Regions from separate parts of the Homo sapiens genome. Here region 1 is linked to region 2. Evidence: fine-mapped expression QTL. A gene starts in region 2. The other region holds a variant in brackets. All regions are shown on one strand. Distances are from middle to middle.

The links. PIP is the estimated chance that this variant, and not a neighbour inherited with it, causes the effect.
Region 1: its variant is fine-mapped to the expression of TNFSF9 in whole blood (INTERVAL, PIP above 0.99).

Annotation. Positions count from the first base shown.
Region 1 is chr19:6,551,216-6,554,120 of GRCh38, forward strand. It overlaps the pseudogene TGFBR1P1. Among named protein-coding and RNA genes, the nearest start is that of TNFSF9, 22 kb to the left of the region's middle. RefSeq lists an enhancer at 682-751. The variant C/T (reference allele first, on the strand shown) is at 1,160.
Region 2 is chr19:6,529,590-6,532,490 of GRCh38, forward strand. It overlaps TNFSF9 (TNF superfamily member 9), which reads left to right and starts at 1,437. Exons shown (of 3, transcript NM_003811.4): 1 at 1,437-1,714. The coding sequence starts at 1,448. RefSeq lists silencers at 1,265-1,494, 1,635-1,704 and enhancers at 2,115-2,214, 2,816-2,901.

The DNA.
Region 1 (2,905 bases), 22 kb after region 2:
TCAGCAGAGAGTGTAGCTCCTTTCTGCAGCTGGTCGTCAGGTCATCTCCAGCTATTAGCACAGAGAGTGGCTTCTCTCTGCAGCTGGTCATCTGGACGTCTCTCTTTTTCTCTGCCCTGCTCTGGCTGAGCCTGGGGCTTTTATGGACCTCAGAGGGGATGCAGTGTGTGCCGACTGGTCCATTAACAGCCATGCATGGGCCTGGAAAAGGCATCACAAGTCCCCACTCTGGTCCACAGGTCTGGTGGCCCTCAGCCTTCAGGCCCTCCCTGGCCTGAAGGTGGGGTCTTAGCGAGGACTTGCTCCCTTCTGCCAGGAATCAGTCTGCCTCCTGCTGCCGTTCATGGCCCCAGGTTGGACCCTGACTTTGCTCCAAGATCAGAGCAGGCGCTGAGAGCAGGGAGAAACCAGGCAGTGGGAGCAGGTGCTTTGGAGCCTGCAAGGGCAGGGGGGCCTCCCTGGCCCCCCAAGAGCACAGGGAGGCTTGAATCTGCGGCCACAACTTGGGCGGCTGCAGAGGCCCAGGATGCAGCTTCAGGTGCTCCCCCTTGCAAGCTGGGGCGGGGATTCCTGATCCTTGCCGGGCCTGGGCTGGCGCCCAGGGCAGGGGCAATATCACCACGAACTGCCCCTGTTGCCCCGGCACTCAGGGGCAGCCTGTGGGGAGCTGATCCTGGCCCCAGCCTGGCCACGGGGAGTGGCAGGCTTGGTGGTCGCTCTGATGCGGGGTGGACCCCAAGAACACGGCTGGCAAGCCCTGCACAGAGCCTCCTCCTGATGCCTAGGAACCCTGAACCCTCTGCGGGGTGGGTGCAGTGGCTGCGCGGCTGGCTAGTCCCCAAAGAGGGCGCTGCTCCCTCTTCCTGCCCCCGCCCCCAAAGCACGGCCCCAGCTCCACATCCGGGCCCCTCTCTGCCCGACCGCGCTGCTCCAGCAGGGCGTGGGCTCCAGAGGGCTGTGGGCTGCGTGGCCGGGGAGCTGTCAGCCTCCTCCCTGGGCCCTCCCTGCAGCAGCCATGTGATGGCAGCAGCCAGACAGCCCACCACAGCCATCAATACCACACGAATTTTCACAATAAGCTGGACAAACTTTCCCTGGTGGAAAAATTAGTCTGTGGCCGGGTGTGGCTGGCCCTGGCTCTCCCAGGAGGTTTTCATGA[C/T]GTAACCTGCCAATTTGATAAATCTCTGCCTCATAGAGTCACAAACGTTCTTCTCTAGATGAGAAGTTCTCCATGATTCCATAAATATAAATTTTAAAAAATTTAACCTGGGGCCGGGCGCGGTGGCTCATGCCTGTAATCCCAGCACTTTGGGAGGCGGAGGTGGGTGGATCACCTGAGGTCAGGAGTTCAAGACCAGCCTGGCCAACATGGTGAAACCCTTGTCTCTACTAAGAATACAAAAATTAGCTGGGCGTGGTGGTGTGTGCCTGTAATTCCAGCTACCCAGGAGGCTGAGGCAGGAGAATCGCTGGAACCTGGGATGCGGAGGTTGCAGTGAGCCAAGATCACGCCACTGCACTCCAGCCTGGGTGACAGAGCAAGACCCCGTCTCAAAAAACAAAACAAAACAAAACAAAAAAAACAAAAACTAACTTTAAGTTCAGGGGTACATGTGCAGGTTTGTTATATGGGTAAACCTGTGTCATGCGGGTTTGTTTTACAGGTTATTTCACCCAGGTGCTAAGCCTAGTATCCATTAGCTATTTTTCCTGATCCTCTTCCTCCCCCAACCCTCCACCGTCTGATAGGCCCCAGTGTGTGTTGTTCTCCTCTATGTGTCCATGTGTTCTTATCATTTAGCTCCCACTTATAAGTGAGAACATGCAGTATTTGTTTTTCTGATCCTGCGTTAGTTTTCTAGGGATAATGGCCTCTAGCTCCATCCATGTTCCTGCAAATGACATGATCTCGTTCTTTTTTATGGTGCATAGTATTCCGTGGTGTATATGTACCATATTTTCTTTATCCATTCTACCATTGATGGCCATTTAGGTTGGTTCCACGTCTTTGCTATTGAGAATATGCTGCAATGAATATATGCATGCACGTGTCTTTATAATAGAATGATTTATATTCCTTTGGGTTTACACCTAGCAGTGGGATTGCTGGACTGAATGGTAGTTCTGTGTTTAGGTCTTTGAGGAATCCTCACACTGTTTTCCACAATAGTGGAGCTAATTTACATTCCCACCAACAGTGTAAAAGCGTTCCTTTTCTTAGAAGACAATACCTTTTTTTGTTGTTGTTGTTGTTGAGACGGAGTCTCCCTCTGTTGCCCAGGCTGGAGTGCAGTGGTGTCATCCCAGCTCACTGTAACCTCCATCTCCCGGGTTCAAGCAATTCTCCTGTCTCAGCCTCCCAAGCAGCTGGGATTACAGGCTTGCATCACCACGCCCAGCTAATTTTTGTATTTTTAGTAGAGATGGGGTTTCACCCTGTTGGCCACGCTGGTCTCGAACTCCTGACCTCAAGTGATCCACCCACCTCAGCCTCCCAAAGTGTCAGGATTACAGGCGTGAGCCACCGTGCCCAGGCAAGAAGGGAATATCTTAATGACAACTTCTCCCCGCCGCTTTCCTCGCCAAAATTCTTCACATTCACCTTTGCCAGTGTTCCTGTAACAACAATAGTTTTCACAATTGTTCTCTGAACAAGCAATGGTAGACCTGATCCAGAGCCTGATATTGTCATATCATAAATTAAATCTTTTAATGTAGTTCCCTCTGAAATAAAAGGATAATCTTTTTTTTTTTTTTTTTGAGACGGAGTCTTGCTCTGTCGTCCAGGCTGGAGTGCGGTGGCGCGATCTCGGCTCACTGCAGGCTCCGCCCCCCCAGGGTTCACACCATTCTCCTGCCTCAGCCTCCCGAATAGCTGGGACTACAGGCGCCCGCCACCACGCCC
Region 2 (2,901 bases):
GAGACAGAGATAACGGAGCCAGAGATAGGGAGAGTCAGAGACAGAGAGAAAGAAACACACAGACTGACACAGATAAAAGAGCCAGAGACAGGGAGAGGCAGAGACAAAGAGAGATACAGAGACAGAGATAACAGAGCCAGAGACAGAGAGACAGAGACAGAGATAACAGAGCCAGAGACAGGGAGAGAGTGTCAGAGACAGAGACAGACACAGAGATAACAGAGCCAGAGATAGGGAGAGTCAGAGACAGAGAGAAAGAGACACAAGACAGACATAGATAAAAGAGCCAGAGACAGGGAGAGGCAGAGACAAAGAGAGATACAGAGACAGAGATAGCAGAGCCAGAGACAGGGAGAGAGTGTCAGAGACAGAGAGACAGACACAGAGATAACAGAGCCAGAGATAGGGAGAGTCAGAGACAGAGAGAAAGAGACAGACAGACATAGATAAAAGAGCCAGAGACAGGGAGAGAGACACAGAGACAGAGACATAGAGACAGAGATAACAGAGCCAGAGACAGAGTCAGAGACAGAGACAGAGAGAGCCAGACACAGAGACAGAGAGAGAGAGTCACAGCCAGAGACAGCGACAGAGATAACAGAAGCAGAGAGAGGGAGAAAGATAACAGAGCCAGAGACAGTCAGAGACAGAGATAGAGAGACAGAGATAACAGAGCCAGAGACAGATACAGAGACAGAGATAACGGAGCCAGAGATAGGGAGAGAGAGTCAGAGACAGAGAGAGATATATAGACAGAGATAACAGAGCCAGACATGGGGAGAGAGAGTCAGAGGCAGAGAGAGAGAAGACAGATAGAGAGACAGAGCCAGTGATAACAGAGCCAGAGACAGGGAGAGAGAGTCAGAGAGAGATACAATGAGAGACAGAGATAACAGCCAGAGACAGAGTTAGACAGAGAGATACAGAGACAGAGATAACAGAGCCAGAGACAGGGAGAGAGAATTAGAGACAGAGATAGAGAGAGACAGAGACAGAGATAATACAGGCACAGAGGCACGCATAGACATAAATTGGCAGAGAGAGAGAAAGATCTCTTTCCACCCACTGCAGAGGCAATCAACAGAGACAGAGAAAGACGTTAACGGGGAGACACAGAGAGCAAAGGAGACTGAGTCAGCAAGAGACCCACAGAGATACCGGGAAAGAGCGGCAGAGAGGGAGAACCAGGGCGATGGAGAGACAGCAGGGAGAAAGGAACCTGGAGCCGAGCTTGGAAGGCCGGAAACGGAAAGGAGAGCGAAAAGCGGAGAGAGATCCGAGTGGAGAAAATTCCGCAGAGTCACGGGGACGAGGGGAAAGGCTCTGGGCTGGGAAGGGGCGTGGCCGCGGGCGGAGGGGCGTGGCCGCGGGCGGAGGGGCGTGGCCTCCTTTTGTAGCCAAGCAGCTATAAAAAGCGGCGCGCTGTGTCTTCCCGCAGTCTCTCGTCATGGAATACGCCTCTGACGCTTCACTGGACCCCGAAGCCCCGTGGCCTCCCGCGCCCCGCGCTCGCGCCTGCCGCGTACTGCCTTGGGCCCTGGTCGCGGGGCTGCTGCTGCTGCTGCTGCTCGCTGCCGCCTGCGCCGTCTTCCTCGCCTGCCCCTGGGCCGTGTCCGGGGCTCGCGCCTCGCCCGGCTCCGCGGCCAGCCCGAGACTCCGCGAGGGTCCCGAGCTTTCGCCCGACGATCCCGCCGGCCTCTTGGACCTGCGGCAGGTGAGACGTGCCCCGACCCTCGGTAGCTGGTCTCGCGGGAGACCCCTACCGCCCCTCTGGGACTCCCTTCTCCCTCCCGCACCCCCAGGGACACCTGTTCTACACTCCCGGCCGGGGAGAGGAGACCCACCGGGGCTCCCATTCTCCATCTAGCACCGAGGCCGGGGGGGCACACCTTTCATCCCGCACCCCTACGACACCTCATCTGTACCCCAGGCCGGGGGCGGGGAGGAGACCGCCCAACAGTTCTTTTTGGACCCCCCAAGGGTCTCCTTCTTCTAGTCCGGGGGGCACCCCTTTCATCCTGCGCCCGCTACGAGACCCTATCTGTATCCCGGGAGGGGGAGAGGAGACCCCCACAAGTTCTTTTTGGACCTCCAAGGGCTCTCCTTCTCCGTCTTGCACGGGAGGGCACCCCTTTCATTCCGCATCCCGAGACCCCATCAGCACCCCAGGCCAGGAGGAGGAGACCCCCACAGTCCTCAACCCCTCAGGGATACGTCTTCTGCACCCCGGGTCGGAGAAAGGCTGGCTTCCCTCCATGTGGCAGTGGGTGGGGGCACCCCTCTTCATTCCGCATTCCCAAGGCACCCCATCTGCACCCTGGACGGGGGACCCTCCGCGGTTCTCCAACCCTCGACGGCTTCCTTTCTCTATGTAGGACTTAGGACATTGAGGGCACCTCTTTTTACCCCGCACCCCCACAAGCTCTGCATCTCTGGGGGGAACCTTTTTTCCATCCCCGATCCGAGGGGGGCACTTCCTCTTTATCTGGGACCGCCAAGGAGACCCCCAGTTCCTTTGCTAACTCCCAAAGAGCCTTATCCCCAACATCTGAGGTACCCCTCTCCCTTTCAAGACCCCCAGGGGAATACCCCCAAGGGGGCTGGAAAGAAGAGGGATCGCTTTTCCCTCCTGAATTCTTGGAGATCTGTCCTTGGGGCAGGTTGAGCCACCAGCTTCGTGTGTGTGTGTGTGTGTGTGTGTGTGTGTGTTCGTGTTTGTGTGGGTGTTTGTGTTCGTGTGTGTGTGTTCGTGTGGGGGTGCGTATGTGTGTGTGTTCGTGGGTGTGTTTGTGTTCGTGTGGGTGTGTGTTCGTGTGGGTGTTTGTGTTTGTTCGTTCGTGTGGGTGTTTGTGTTCATGTGGGTGTGTTTGGATATTTGTGTTCGTGTGTGTCTGTGTGTGT